Regions from separate parts of the Homo sapiens genome. Here region 1 is linked to region 2. The links come from fine-mapping of genetic effects on gene expression. Tissue or cell type: uterus. Region 2 holds a variant in brackets; the other region holds the start of a gene. All regions are shown on one strand. Distances are from middle to middle.

Region 1 (8,004 bases), 940 kb before region 2:
AATATAGATGATTGCTTGCTATCTTTATAGATAATTATCCTTAAACCCCCAAATAATACCTAGCATGACACTTTGCAGCTTAATATGTGCTTTCATGTACATTGTCTCATTTGGTCCTCACAATCAAGAGATAGGTATGATGGCCATAACAGTAAAGGCAGGTCTTCTGGCTTGAACCCAGTGCTTTTCCTACTGTCACACTTCCCTCTGTAATTTTTTTTTTTACCCGATTTTTTTCAGCAGCCCAAAGAAGCAATCTGCTTGGGTCTTTTTCCATTTTTTTTTCTTGCAATCGATACCACTCTTCATTTTTGTCATCTTGCTCCTCATCTTCATCAGAATTGCCTACCCAAAGACTTTGAGTACCAGTAGGAATAAGGTGTCCATGTGTTTCCAACAATTCAAGTTGGTTAAAGTGTTCAGAAAAATCCAAGGAATTCTCTTGGTCTGGTATTCCATCATCATTTCCTTTTTCTTTTTCCATTTTTTACTACTATTCTAAATAAAAAGCATTTCAAATGCCAGGATATAAATCTTTCTAGAGATGAATTATGACTGCTTTGTTCATCAAGATCTGAAAACACAAATACAAAAGTTATTAGTAAAACAATAATTCAGGCTTTATCAACTGCATAGATAAGTCTTGCAAACATATACAATTAAACCCTGTCTAAACTCTTGTTTTTCTCATGATATCCCTTACATACACTAAATACTGATGCTGACAGAAAACAACAAACTATGATCTAATAGTGGTCTAATGCTTCTTACTTTTGTTGTTTTCTTCTAAGTCAATTATATTATTATAACTATTATTTTTAATCTACTGGTTTAGGTATGATGGTGTTATGCTAACAGTGATGAATGCTTAAAGGTTTTGAAGTATAACTAATACAATGAAGACAGGTGCATTCAAGATTTTTATAAACTAGACACACAGATAATATAGAGCAGAAATAAAAACTTCTAATTCCTAAAAATACTATTTCGAAGAATCAGGGATTCTTGAAGATGGAATAGCCCCCAAAAGGACATCTGTTCCAATCTGTCATCGGTACATATATCTTTATCACAGCATCTACACTAATTATCCTATTTCTACTTTGATAATTTCAGGCCTAGGAAAATTCACTGCTTTAAAAAGTAGTCCTGTTTATTGATAGGCAACTATAGTTCTTAGTTGGGTCCTTGTTTTCAACTGAATTTTGGCTGTCATTCATTCCTTCATTCAACTAATATGAATAGAATGTCTGGTATGTGCCAACTTCTGGGTACTGGGATTCAATAATGAGCAAGATCCATGTCTTCACCTCAGGAAGCTTACTCTAGTGTAGGTGACTGGCAAAGACATCATGTGTCTGGCAAAGACAACATGATAAGTACTACTACAAGACCTTGTCTAGAAACCATGAGTATACAGGAGGTTCATAATTCCCCTAGTCCTAAGGGATTAAAGAAGGCTTCCTGAAGGAACTGATGTTTATTCTGCTAAGCTGCCATATTAATTTTTAAACCAATATCAGCTTAAAGGGTTACACAACATATAAACCTTAATCAATTAAAGAAAAGGAGAATAACCAATAGATAATTTACAAATACGAATTCCCAGCCTCTCAACTCTATTTGTTGAAATATAATCAGTCTTTCAAGGCTCTTCTCTGATGTTATCTCTTTCATTCTTTCTTGATCCTCTCATTTAGATCGCTTTCTGCTTTCTACTTTTTTTGGTGCTACATTTCACCTCTAACTTTGTTCTTGTTTTAGCCCCTTAAAAGATTATAAGCTGAAAGATAAGGACCACATTTAACTTATATTTATCTCCTACTTGTCTATAGAAGGCATTAAGAAGTATGTGTAGCATTACATTTAATTAAAGTCTTGTCACTTGATTTTGCCTGGAATGGATTCTGAGAAGTTCCAGAGTTAGGCATAACCCCAAGATACTGATTTCTTGATACCTAATCTCACAAGTTTAACAGTATACAATCTTAATGTGGTATTAAACTTTATTACTAGTGGCAATAGCACTAAACTCAAGTTTAAATGTATTACTCATGTCCAGTAACTTTTCTGGTCCTGTTACTTTATTGTAAAATGTAAGAATTTTACTAAAGTATTCCTAAGGCCAATCCGGCTTTTCAGTCACCCAATCAGAGACACCCTTGGAATCAGAGATATCCAATCAGAATTGCTCTGTGTTTTATTAATTCTCCTGGAGCTTCCACTTTTTCTTTGATTCTCAAACTAATTCCTGAACCTTGCAACACAAAAATGACCATACATCAATTCATTAAACACTTAACAGATGCTAATAAATAAAAGTTCACTTGTAATTATATCAAATATAGTAACCTTATACCACAGATCTTACCCTCTCCCCCAACATGCTTTTCCTTTCAATAAAAACTCCCTTTATATAAATTTTGAGTTTACAGATCCAGATACAAAAAATTATGTACAAAATTTTACTGGTATATTTAGTTTAAAAAGCCAAGCCTAGGCGCATCTACCCGACTTACAGTTAAGAAACAAAACTGATGACTTGATGATGATATTCCTGATATTCCATCAGGAATGTCAGGGTATGTTTCCTAACTTAAAGGGCATATCCTATTTTGAGAGAGATCCGAACTATGTCAACTCCTTACAAACAACTCAGTGATAGGCGGGGCTATAAACCTTACTGGTGAAGGAGGTTCAGATAGATTAAAACAACTTGCCCTAGATCAAGGACCCTTCAATGGAACTGAAAGGGCAGACGTTCTAATTCAAAAGTTCTACATTATTTTTCGCTGCACTATACATCTTACTGCTCTCAGCACAAAGCAGTGCAGATGTGCTGAACTCAAGGACCTAGGGGCGACACCTGTAGAGGGTCTGGCGACTGGGAGGGAGGGAGAGGGGATCCAGCTCCGGCACTCTGCCACCAGCCGGGAGCTCACAGGCCCGTGAGCTCCGCCTGCGGCCTTCCAAACAGCCAAGAGCGGAGAAGCGGCTTCGGTCCTACCTGGGGACCACGAAGCGGCCTGACCTGCAGGGCTCGGCCTGTGTCCACAGGCTACCCACCCCCACGGGCTCAGGAGTTCTTAGATGGCGCCGGTCCATCAAAAAGCGAGGTCCGGGACAGGGAATAACAACCCACCTGACAGAAGGGAAAATCGCCGCCTTGCATCTCACTTCCGGGTTCGTCTCCTAGCCTGCTCAGGATTGGCTCCTGCGTGAGGGCGGGGCCTCGCCGCTACTTTCCCCGCCCCCTCACTGCGTGCGGTAGCCAATGAGAGCCGAACTGGACTTGAAGCATCTACGTTATCCATGAAGTGTCGCGAGAGAAACGGACGCCGTTCTCTCCCGCGGAATTCAGGTTTACGGCCCTGCGGGTTCTCAGAGGCAAGTTCAGACCGTGTTGTTTTCTTTTCACGGATCCTGCCCTTTCTTCCCGAAAAGAAGACAGCCTTGGGTCGCGATTGTGGGGCTTCGAAGAGTCCAGCAGTGGGGTAATTTAGGAATCGCATTCGTCTCCTGTTTCTGCAGGTTCCCAGGCGGAAGCCCAGAGTTAACTGGAACCTCGGGAAGAGCGGGCCGAGTGGGCAGGGGAGGGGTCCTGGCGGGCTCAGCGTTCTGATTCCGAGGTTCCCTGCGGTGAGGGCGTGTTGAGGCTTGGAATCCCGACGGAATCTGGAGCTCCAGATGTGGTGGGGGTTGTCTCGCGGTGGCAGCCACTCTTCCCCAAACCTGGCTATTTTCAGTCATCCTGCTGGTGCTTAAAGGTGTTCCTCCGCAGACCACGTGTTTGTTTATTTACACTCGCTTTAAACGCGGGCCCGTTCCCTTTTCCAAACTAGCCAGGTCCTTTAAAAAAAATCGTGGGGTTTGAATAGGAAATACAGGATTGCCTCTGTTCTCCAGAGTAACCTATGCGTGCAACTTAAAAATATCTGCACATCTAGAGTTGTTTGTGTGTTGAACCAGAACCGTATGTGACCCTTTCTGCCCATTTATTTAGCATACATTAATTTCCCATAAGAGCACGGGAAAGGAAAATAGGAGTTTAATCATCTTGGTGAAACTAGGAAACAGGATGTACACTGGAGATATATTATTTTCTATGCTCAGTTCATTAAAAAAAAGTATAGTGGGTGCTTAGATGAAAATGAGACTTCTAAATTTGCCAGTCTAATTAAGACGTCTGTACCTTGTGCAGCGTAAATCATGTTGGTTAAATACGTGCAGGCTTTTAAAAAATGTGTTTTATGATGTAATTTTGTTTTTAGAATTTCTAGAATTTGGAATCGAGTGCATTTTCTGACATTTGAGTACAGTACCCAGGGGTTCTTGGAGAAGAACCTGGTCCCAGAGGAGCTTGACTGACCATAAAAATGAGTACTGCAGATGCACTGTAAGCACCTGACTTCTGGAATCCCTTGTTATTTGGGGTTTCTAAAGCTCGTCAACTGTGATCACAGTAAAAGAAAACTTATTTAATAAGCAGTAAATAAGGAACCTGTTTATGAACAGAAATATTAGTCATCAAAAAGGGTATTTGGAATGTTTTAAATATTTATCTGTTTGTTAACTGGAAGCTAATATGCAGCTATAGATTGGAGTCTTGCAGTAATTTGATATATTGATATAGTATTGTTTATGTTCTTAGGCTTCATCTTAAATTATTGAAGTGATAAATATTCTTGAATTTTCCTGACAAATTCTTATTAGTCAATGCAGTTCTGTTTAAGATTTTTAGAGTAAATTCCTCTAGTATTAAATAAGCTGGAAATGAATTTGAATGGAATGGGAATAAATAAAAGGACTGTAAAAGTTATGTGCACTTTGGGAGGCCGAGGCTAGCGGGATCATCTGAGGTCAGGATTTGGAGACCAGCCTGACCAACATGGTGAAACCCCGTCTCTACTAAAAATACAAAATTAGCCAGGCGTGGTGGCGCATGCCTGTAATCCCAGCTACTCAGGAGGCTGAGGCAGGAGTATCATTTGAACCCGAGAGGCGGAGGTTGCAGTGAGCCGAGATCGTAAAAAAAAAAAGTTATGTGGGAAAGACTTTAGACTTGGAGTCTTTTACCCTAGTTTCAAGTCCTTGGACCCTACTAGCTGTGTGACCTTGGGCAAGTCAGCAGTTCTCTGAGCCTTGCCTCAATTTTGCCATTGGTATAATTGGAATAATTATACCTTTTTCAGATTAATTTTGAGGCTTAAATGAGAGAATTCATGAGAAAATACTTCATAAATTGCTACAGAAACATGTAGTATTATGATTTGAAAAGTATCTGACCTACCTTCTTGGATATATCAGTGAGAACTGTGTGCATATCATTTTTGAAGTTTTTGAAGAGAAATCGTTTGTGGAAATATCTTTTGTTTGTAAAGATTTGAATTTTGGAGATATATACAGAGATTTTTTAAAAATTCATTGTGGTTTATTGAAAATAGCCTGAGTTTTCATCATGGGTTTTAGTCCTGTTTCTGTCACTAGTTATGTGATAAAGCAGTTAATTTCTCTGGGTTTAGCCTTCTCATTTGTCAGAGATAATAATGCCTGACTCTTTATCTGTGAGGGTTGAGATGAGATCATAAAAATAAAAGTATTTCATACAATTAAATTTAGTGTAAGAGTATTAATAACTATTACATTGCTACTTCACATTAAAGTACCTTTGAATATTACCAAATTCAAATTGAAACAATTCTGTGTTGGCCAACTTTATTAATGAAATCTAACTCTGTAGAGAGTAGAGTCATGCAAGTGTCTTCAAGGCCCTGAATGTAAATTATTGCATATTAGTATAAAATTGACTCATAAACTTAGAGGAAGGCTTTTTAAATTAACTTCGATTTTCCTGGAAGAGTACGAAGTCAGATAAATAACAAGTTTATTTATCTGAGGAAAACAAGCAAACTTTTGGGCCTGGGTTACATGAGTTTGTAAAACTGGTTATAACAAGGTTATAAATTTTTGAAGCAGTTATAGAACCTTGTAAAGATTTATGTACATTTGTTCTGTATTGAACTAGTGGTTAGGAAAACTGTAATGTTAATGATAACGTTGAATACTTCAGATTTTCAGATGAACTCTAAGGCTAAAAAAAATGATTTTACTCTATAACTGTTATTATTTATTTTATAAGTTTGTCTCAATTTGTTTGAATATCCTTTAATGAATTATTAATATATTGAAATGTTTCTTCTTTCTTAATATAGTGATGATGAAAACACATTTAAAATATTAGTTGCAACAGATATTCATCTTGGATTTATGGAGAAAGATGCAGTCAGAGGAAATGATACGTTTGTAACACTCGATGAAATTTTAAGACTTGCCCAGGAAAATGAAGTGAGTGTGGTTTGTATTTGTGCACTATCTACCATATTCCCTTGGTTAACAAGTTATTTTTCCTTCTAAAGTTAGAGATTTGTTTTATAAGCTCAGGTGCTTACCTTGCCTGCTTGAATATCAATATACTGAAAGCTCAAAGCTGATTTTGTATGCTTTGTGTCTTAAATTCAAGTAGGAGCTACTTTTGTAAATAGTCTGTTAAAATTTACAAATGTTTTTGGGGTGTTTACTGAATGCAGGATCCTGTGGCAGTGTCTATTCGAAATGTAAGGTGACTGTCAAAGCTTCTGCTTTCAGATAACGTAGAAGAAAACTGGTGTGAAAGACAAATATCCACAATCCACAGATGCAAGGTTGTATGTGATAGGAGCCCTAAGAAAATTCTAAATAACATTTCCTTTGAGTTTAGAGGCAGAAAAAATCACGTTTAGATTATAGCAAGATGAGTTTAATGAAGAAGGTTGTGTTTAACTTGGGCTTTGGAGGAAGGGTAGACTTTTGGCCAGTGGGGAGCATAGAGAATGTACATCCATGTGAAGCAGGAGTGAGGAAACCCGTGAGACAGTATAAGGTATGTTAGGGGCCCTGTAGTCAATTTGGCTCACCAGCAGGTCATAGTTAGCAAGCATGCTGAGAGACTAGAAGGAAGGATTTGAGCTGCATTAATGAGGACTTCAAATATCAGATTGAGAAATTTGTATCCAGTTCAAGAGAAAGTCTTTTGGCAGCGGAGTATAATACCATGAATTGGAGACCAGTTAGAGGCTTTTTTTGAAGTATTGACCTTAGGGATGGAAAAGAGGAAATGAATGCAAGGGATACTGCAAAAAGAGGATTTGTGTACTTTGGTTAGTTGTAGCGGGGTGGGGATGAGGGCAAAGGGATGACAGTGACTCTGAAGTGTGTGGAGTTTGGGTGAATAGTTGTACCAAAAATAGAAATAGGTAGATAAGGAAGAGGTACTGCTTCATGTGGGAAGGTGACAAATTCTTTGTTTGATTTCGACAAACTTAGAGTTGGAGACTGCAATGGGACATTCAGGGAAAAATTTCAGCAGGCAGTTAACACGCCAGCCCAGGAGAGAGTTGGAGAATAAATGTAAAAATTGACTTGCAAATTAACACCGCCAGCCTTGACTTTTCTGGAGAGTTCTCTTAAGTTTATCTGCTAGGTCCTTAGTTCTTCCTCCCAAATATATATGGTTCCTCTCTACTACTCTTTTCACACTAATAAACTTAGTCCAAAACGATCACATTTCACATGGCCTGCAGGAGGTCCCCTTCCATCTTTCTGCTTCTATTCTTTTCTGCTACATCTACTCAGCATAGCAGCCAAAGTGAACTTTTAAAATAATAAATCAGATCATGGCACTCTGTTGCCTAAAATTTTCCAAGTGTCCTTCCATTGAATCTAGTATAAAATTCAAACTACAAGGTTCGACTTGATCTTGACCCCTGCCATGAAACTTCATCTCCTACTACTCTCTGCCTGATTTACAGTGCTACATCCACACCGGCATGTTCTACTCTGAGGCCCTTGCACATCTAGTTCTTTCTGCTTGGAGCACATTGATCTTGGTGGGGCCGACTTCTGAGAGTTCAAGTCTTACCTTTTTGGAGACGTCTTCCCTGATACTTCCAAGCACTGTTTTATCAC
Region 2 (8,264 bases):
GAATATTATGCAGCCATTAAAGAAATAAAGTAATGATACATGCTATGTATTAGTGAGGATTCTCAAAAAAAAAGAACCAATAGGATATATGTATGAGTGTATGTATATATGTATACACACACACACACACACACACACACACACACACACACACACACAGAGAGATTTATCATAAAGAACTGGAGGCTGGGCGTGGTGGCTCATCCCTGTAATCCCAGCACTTTGGGAGGCCGAGGTGGGTGGATCACTTGAGGTCAGGAGTTTGACACCAGCCTGGCCAATATGGTGAAACCTCGTCTCTACAAAAAAAAATACAAAAATTAGCCAGGCATGGTGGCGGGCACCTGTAATCCCAGCTACTCAGAAGGCTGAGGCAGGAGAATCGCTTGAACCCGGAAGGCAGAGGTTGCAGTGAGCCAAGATTGTGCCACTGCACTCCAGCCTGGGCAACAGAGCCAGATCCTGTCTCAAGAAAAAAAAAAAAAAAAAGAATTGACTCATGCAATTATGGAGGCTGAGAAGTCCCAAGATCTTTGGTTGACAAGCTGGAGAACCAGGAAAGTCTATGGTATAGTTTCAGTCCTAATCCAAAGGCCTGAGAACCAGGAGAGTCAATGGTGTAAGGTCTATTCTGAGTCCAAGTCCAAAGGCAGAAGACCAATGTCTCACTGGAAGACATTCATATAGAGAGAGAACAAATCCTTTCTTACACAGCCTTTTTGTTCTATTCAAGCCTTTAATTGATTGCATGGGGCCCACCCACTCTGGGAAGGGCAACCTCCTTTCTCAGGCCATCAATTCAGATGTTAATTTCATCCAGAGACACCCTCACAGACACACCCAGAATAACGTTTAACCAAATACCTGGCACTCTATGGCCCAGTCAAATTGGCACATAAAATTGACCATTATATGCTATCACATGGATAAACCTCAGAAACATGCCATGAGAAAGACACCAGACACAAAAGGTCACATATTACATGATTCTATTTATATAAAATATCCAGGATAGGCAAATCCATAGAAACAGTGAGCAGATGAGTGGTTGCCAGGGACTGGTGGGGAGTGGGGAATGGAGAGCAACTGCTTGATGAGGGTGGAGTTTGCATTTGCGGTGGTGAAAATGTTCTGGACCTGGATAGTGGTGATAGCTGCATAGCACTGTGAGTGTACTTAATGCCACTGAATTGTACACTTTATATTGGTTAAAACGGTAAGTTTTATGTTACACATATTTTACCACAATAAAAACAGACAAATGGAAACCTATTACAGTTATCTTTGAAGACCTTGATTTTTCTCGTAAAACAGGATGTGCCTCTCCCTTGTTTCTGATTCTCAGTTCCTACCTGAGAACTGGATCTCTCAGTGGAGAAACCGTTCAGCCCCTCGGTCCCTCGGCTGCAGGGCTGCTGCTTTTTCAGAGCACTCCTCTGCTTCCTTTCCCTTCTGGCTTGGAGCTCTGTCCTGCAGGGAGAACCTGCAGTGGACGCCACTCATCCCCACTTCCTGCCCACTCGCAGCTCCTGGCTGCTCTTCCTTCATCTCTCATGTGGCTCTGCCAATACCAGTCTAAACTCTAAACTCTCACCTTTCACTTGGCATTGTAGTGGCTGGATTTCCATGGCCTGGTGCTGGGCCTCACCTGGGCTTGCCCCAACTCAGGGAGCTGGTCAGGCTGACCTTTGTCAACACGTTCATGTCCACTTCCCCACTCACCTTCAGTCTTTTCCTCCTGTAGATGCTTTCTTACTATCCTACCCTACTCCTGACTTATCTGTCCTGCCATTCTGACTCCCTGGACCTGTCAAACTGTCCACAGAGTGACAATTAGTCCTCTGCAGAAGTAGAATGAAGGCTACTCATTCAGGACTTCCTTGCCCTTCTCCAGTTGGGTCAGTCTTCCCAGAAAACATGTGGGCATTACCCATCCAACCTCTAATTAATCTTCCTAACATGTGCTTAGATTATGTTTACTCTCCTTCTCGAAAAACTTTACTGGCAATTGTAGTGACATTTTCTATGCTTTACTGCTGCTCAGCATCTTCTGAAAGCCTTTTTACATTTAGGGAAATGTGCAATTAGGAGTCCTGCCTTCCCAAGGCAGATGCTAGAAACTCTTACCCAGCATCCCTTGCAGCTGGAGCACAGGCCCAGGACCCTTGTTCTGCCCATAGACTGCTCTCGGTAGACTTAGGTTCAGAGGAGAGCACCACCAGGAAGCCACATGGAGTGGGATCCATTTTCTGGAAGTAGAGATGAGGTCTTGCGTCTAGTGCCTGGTGGTAGTAAATGTGGGCCTCCATGGAATTAGCACAGAGGGTGGATTAACTGCTTGGTTTTCAAGTTTTGTTCTTTGCCCTCCCAGAGTTCCTGTAAATTACCCAGTATCTCAATATTTTTACTCAAATTACCCCCAATTTTTCAGCTTTGTTGAGGTATAATTGACAAATAACAATAGTATATATTCTAGATATACAACATGATGTTTTGATATATGTATACATTGTGACATGATTACTGCAATCAGGTTAGTTAACCCATCTCTCACATCACATAATTACCTTTTTTTGGTGATCAGATTACTTAAGATCTACTCTCTTAGCAAATTGCAAGTACACAGTACATTATTATTAACTATAGTCACTGTGCTGTACATTGGGTCTGCAGAATTTATTCTTTGTACAAGTACACGTCTGTAATGTCTTTTAATTAATTTATTTTCTATTTAAACTCCCTGGAATGGTTGTTTGTAACTAAGAAGTCTCAAAGTGCATAGTCTTTTTTTTTTTTGTCTTCGGATTAAGAGCAAATGTCTTCCCTTGCAACTGAGGCTTTGCCTGTTGTGATGTCAGCTGTTTCTCCAGGCTTCACTCTTTTCATGTCTCTATGATACAGCCAGAGGGTGTAGCTCCATCTCTCCTGATCAAAAGGGGCTCCCCATGTCTATGCCGTGGTTCCTGCTGTCTACTCCACTTGGAACACACTCCCAGCTACACCTTTGTCCCTAATATTCTATTCATCCAGTGTTTCTTTAGAGAAACACTCTAAATTTTTTTTAAGACATATCATACTTAAGCTCCCCCACCATAAAAATGTGTCCACTTTTTCTAGAGGGCAGAGGCTCTGTCTTAGTCATCCCTCAGAATTCAGCTGTGTCTGACCAAGGAACTCACCAACTGGCTTAATAAAATAACACTCTGTGATCCCTCAAGGTGGGCAATTGTGAAAGGATCCCTGTAAAGGCCTAACACTTGTTCCTCCAACGTCACTTTCTTCTAGGGAATGTCTTCGATTGCTGCTTCCACTGCTGTCATGACCTTAGGTGGCATAAAAGTCCTTACCTTTCTACCCTAAGGATGGGCCAATTCTCTTCTTTTAGTATCTTTCAGAACAGCTGTGCTTAAGTTAAAGCTTTGTGCTAATAGCATAGAATGATTCATGAAACTCTTGGGTGAATAAATGGTTGTTCTAATCACCTGCACCTGCCCATCCTTGGGG[A/C]GCCCCTCCAGATCTGCCTCCCTATCCAGCTTCAAATGGCAAGAGTCATTTTTCATCCCCCCTACCAGGTAGGACATTCAAGCCTTGCTAAACTTGTGGGAGCTTGAGCTCAAGAGAGCCATATCAGAGAAAGGAAGACATTCTTTCCTTACCCCGGTCTAAGTCCTGTCTTCTAATCCCTCACTTCTTCCAAGTTCCACTGTTTCTCAGGACCACCAACACCAGAAGTGTCCATTACTCTAAATGTGACTCCATCTTCTGAACACAAGGATGTGGCTTTATTTTATTCCAAGACTCAAATGGGACAGATCCATTACAGTACAACTCAATTCAATATCTATGTAAGAGACACATATACACACAGCAGAGATATATAGGCAGTGCAGAGTAGATGTATGGAGAATTGAATTAACCCAAACATATCCTTCAATGTTTGTAGTTATAGGAATTTCAACTTTATACACAAATATTGTACCTTTAAAATATTTTTATAAATTAACCTAATTTTTCCCATCCCACTGGGCTTGTAGCTGGGGAAGGGCTACTTAACCTAAGCCATTCTTGGACTTTCTCTGCCCCCTCCAAGCCCAGAATTTAGATCACAGTTCCATGGTCATTCACATTCCCCAGGCATCTGATGTGGGGAGATGTCTCCCTTGTTACCAGGTCATTGGTTTACAGTTTTCTGCTGTCTACAGGGCTGTATTAGAACTACTGCCTCTCTGTATCATTTATTTATTTATTTATTTATTTATTTATTTATTTATTTATTTTTTTAGAGATAGGGTCTTTCTATGTTGTCCAGACTGGCAGTGGCTATTCACAGATGTGATCCCACTGCTGATCAGCATGGAAGTTTTGTCCTGCTCTGTTTCTGACCCGGGCTGGATCACCCCTCCATAGGCATCCTGCTGGTCCTCTGCTCCTGGGAGGTCACCATATTGATGTTGCATTTAGTGCAGACATCCCATTGGCATAGTGCACTACAGCACAGATCTCCTGGGCTCAAGCAATCCTCCTGCCCCACCTCTGGAGTAGCTTAGTCTACAGGTGCACAGCACTGTGGCTGGCTCTGCAGATTTTATTTCATGCTTGAGGCACAAAAATCTTTTACAAGGCTATCACAACTAGCTAGATTCAGAGATTGCCAGTGGGTGGAATGAAGCCCAAGATGTGTTTTTTTCACCAGCATAGTATACATTTTTTAAACAAAATTATATACTTAGGACATAAAACCCCAGGTAGACTTAATCCTTACCACTCCCGCTTGTCTCTTTACCAGCTTTACTCATTTATTTGTTCATAATACCTTCTGATTCTTTGAAGGCATTTGAACATCTGAGCTTGCAACTATTCCTCTTTGGAATCATACACCCTCTTTCTTTTCTGCCTTGGCCTGGGGTTGGCTGTATGGTCTTGGGAGGATCCTTTCTTATTCCCAATGCCTTGATTCAAATGCTCAAGTTACTCTATGAATTGCCTCTTTCTTTAACCTCCTTCGTGAACCCTCTTAGGTCTTCAAAAGATAGAGGACTTTGGAAAACAAAGTCCTAGAGATATTACTGATTAATCCCTGATTTCTTCCCTGCCACATCCCTGAAAAAATAAGGCACTTTTGGAAGTTGTGGGAGAAGACGTGGTAGAAAAAAAGAGAAGAAAACATAAATTTTGTTGCAAAATATTAGCTAACCACATCATCTAAAACAGAGAAAAACTAAAATGTGAGGAATTTTGAACACAGAAGGAAAGAAGAAAACATTATAAGTTCAAAGGGACATGGTTGGGAACCTCTGGAGTCTTACAGTATCTGTCAAATTACATGATGCAGGCAACAGTGCTTTTCATCTGTGTCCCCCATCCCAAAGCCCCTGTCCTTTCCTGTGAGCGCTTAATACCACTGAACCCCCTTCTCCTGCCAAAACAGTCCACATACTACCCTCTTGGCAGCTGTCACACACCTGGAGATAGGACACAACCTGCTCATTCTCTGAATAAGCTCCATACTTCATTGCCATGACTTTTCCCAAAGTCCCTGTCTGAAAAAAACAATGTCATTAGACATGTAAAAGGAAAAAAGAACCTTCTTCATCCTCCAGCTGGAAAGGAAGCAGGCTGCATCTAGGGGAGATGATGCAGCAGGGAAGGAGCCCTGTGCAAGGCGGGGCTCTCTTGTGCAGGGCGGCCTGGAGAGGATGACTGGGAGCCCCGTGAGACTTGTGTAGGGAATGTGGCAGGAGACAGGGGAGAAGTACAGAAACTGGGAAAAAGGATCAATGCTTTGGCCTGAAAAAAATCAATCTCTTGCTGATTGAGAGAATCAAGCGGTTTTGATCTCTCAATCCTACAGGGTACTTGTAGCAAATACAAAAGGAATAAGACACAATTCCTGTCCTCAGGGAGTTTAGTTTTTACTGGAGGAGGCCAGACACACACTCCACACCAGGCAATACCTGGATATGTTCAAGGAGTAGTGGCGTAATAAGTGGAAATTCAGAGGATGGGGAGAGAACTGGGGTCTAAGAAAGCTTTTTGGAGAAGGGGAGACTTGAGCCAAACCTTGAGGAATGGGTGGGATTTGGAATGCAGAAAGGGGAGGCCCTTAGGTGGAGGGGCCCTGTGGGCAAGGTGTGACAGTCAGGGGACAGTGAGTAGGGGGCCTGCCTGGCTGACACAAAGGAGTGAGTGGTAGAGAAAATGTTGGAAAGGAAGGAGAAATAGAAATGTGGTGAAAGCTTGACCAGTTGTGTGACTTTATATGATCTTTTGCCTTAGTGTCTTCATCCCTAAATGGCCATAATAAGCCTAGTCGTGGTTTTCATGAAGTTAAATGGGGTGCTTGATATGAAAGCTTTCTATTGTGTGGGGCTTCAAAAAAAGGTCAGTTCTTGCTTTCCCGACTGAGGCACTTGGACACTATCCTGTAGGCTATGTGGTGCCAGCAGGGTTCGTGAGCAGGAAAAGGAACTTCAAAAGCCTGGCAGAGAGAGAACGATGGAGGAGGATATGAGAGGGGCCGGTGGACAGCCAATCCAATCCTGCTGTGTTGGAGGCTGGCGAGCTCTAATGGGATATGCTGAGGTCCTGGGTGGGGTCTATTACCAGAATGGGAAGCCCTTCAGTCATCTTTCAGATCCTGGTTGAGGCCGTGAGATCGTGCTTGAAATCTTTTCCTAAAAGCTCCACAGAGCCAGCAGGCAGTAGGGGGCTGCCAACCCCCAGACCCTCAAGTGGGAGCGGACTCTGGGATAGAAAGTGAGGGACTCTACCCTCCCTTATAAATCATTATTGCCAGCCAGTCTTCAGTCTGGCTGAAATTTAGTGGGTATATTAAAAATGCATCCAGGCACAATAAAGCCTAGTTTGGGGTTTAAAATATAGCTTGTCAGATGAGTATTTAGTGGTGTGTTTTAATATGCATAAGTGCAAACCGGAATTTAATATGTAGGCTAAAGTACACATTAGCAATTTCGTAAGTGATCTCAAATTGCAGCGTACAGAAGCAACTTGATGGGAGGGTGGGTTGAGGGGGAAAAAGGGAAATAGAATACCGTTAAACTTTGGGATTATTTTTTTCTTTATTCCCCTAAGTAGGACTTTACATAATTCCCAGGTGAATTTGTTATGGAGTTGCCTTTTATTTATTTATTTCTTATTTGTTTTTGTTTTATTGAGCTAATGAATGCTAATTCGTAGAACATAAAATTAGCTTTTTTGCCATATGTAATTCATTACCATCCAGTACCATCACAGTGCTGTTCCATCATCACCTCTATCAATTTCCAACACATTTTCATCACCCCAAAAGGAAATCCTGTACCCATTATGGGGTCAATCCCCCCATTAAGCTGTCACTCCCTGTTTCCCCCTCGCTGCAGGCCCTTGCAACCACCAATCTGCTTTCTGCCTCTCTGGATCCACCTATTCTGGATCTCTCTCTCTTTCTCTCTCTTTTTGCTCTTGTTTTGTCCTATGGTTTGTATAAGTTTGTGTTTTTCTGGACTTAGGCAATGCCTGCTGCTTTGGAAGTATTCAGAAGTTGCAATGCTGGGAACCAAGATGTCAGGTTATTGAAAGGAGAGGAACTACCAGATAGAACCTGGCTTTGTAGAGCAAATAAAGGTAAGGCTAGGAGGCTTGGTCCTACCAAGATTTTCCTAAGAGGGCTAGTGACTTTTTGGTATTATAGGCTTGGCAGTCTGATGAAGCCCTTGGACTACTTAGAATAATGTTTTGAAGAAACTAAAGCATACAGATTACCAAGGAAACCAGTTATGTTAAGATGCAGCTTTAAAATATTAAAGTATCTGGTGATCAAGTAATATATATGCTTCTTTATTAACACATTGAATAACAAGATCTAGCTTGGGTCTACTAACACTGTAATTTTAAAGCAGTGAAAGGTGTAAATTATGTTTTGAGATCTGCAACACTGTAACATGATATGAAAATATCTGATTTCTACTGGTAGCAAATTCATGGGAATTGCTAATAATACTGTGGTTTGTTACCAACATTCATAAATAAGCAACCATGAATGGAAGTTAGTACAAACAAAGATATAATTTTTGCCCATCTGAGTTTATACACAGACTTATTAAGAACTCCTGCTCTGGGATCAATTGTTTCTAATCCATTTTCAGCCATAGACCCCTTTGAGAATCTGATCAAAGCTGCCTGTAGACCATCTCACTGGGAAAATAAACTCATCAGCAGATATAAAAATTATATCTTATCTGTTGAACCCTGACACCCACCCATGA

The links. PIP is the estimated chance that this variant, and not a neighbour inherited with it, causes the effect.
Region 1: it holds the start of MRE11, and the variant in region 2 is fine-mapped to the expression of MRE11 in uterus (GTEx, PIP 0.94).

What each region holds. Positions count from the first base shown.
Region 1 is chr11:94,489,174-94,497,177 of GRCh38, reverse strand. MRE11 (MRE11 double strand break repair nuclease) reads left to right here and starts at 3,334. Exons shown (of 20, transcript NM_005591.4): 1 at 3,334-3,387; 2 at 4,272-4,396; 3 at 6,213-6,345. The coding sequence starts at 4,377. It overlaps ANKRD49 (ankyrin repeat domain 49), which reads right to left and starts at 3,194. Exons shown (of 3, transcript NM_017704.3): 1 at 3,143-3,194; 2 at 227-574. The coding sequence starts at 484. RefSeq lists an enhancer at 2,895-2,984.
Region 2 is chr11:93,553,224-93,561,487 of GRCh38, reverse strand. It overlaps a transcript of SMCO4 not described here and the pseudogene RN7SL223P. Among named protein-coding and RNA genes, the nearest start is that of SMCO4, 14 kb to the right of the region's middle. The variant A/C (reference allele first, on the strand shown) is at 3,505.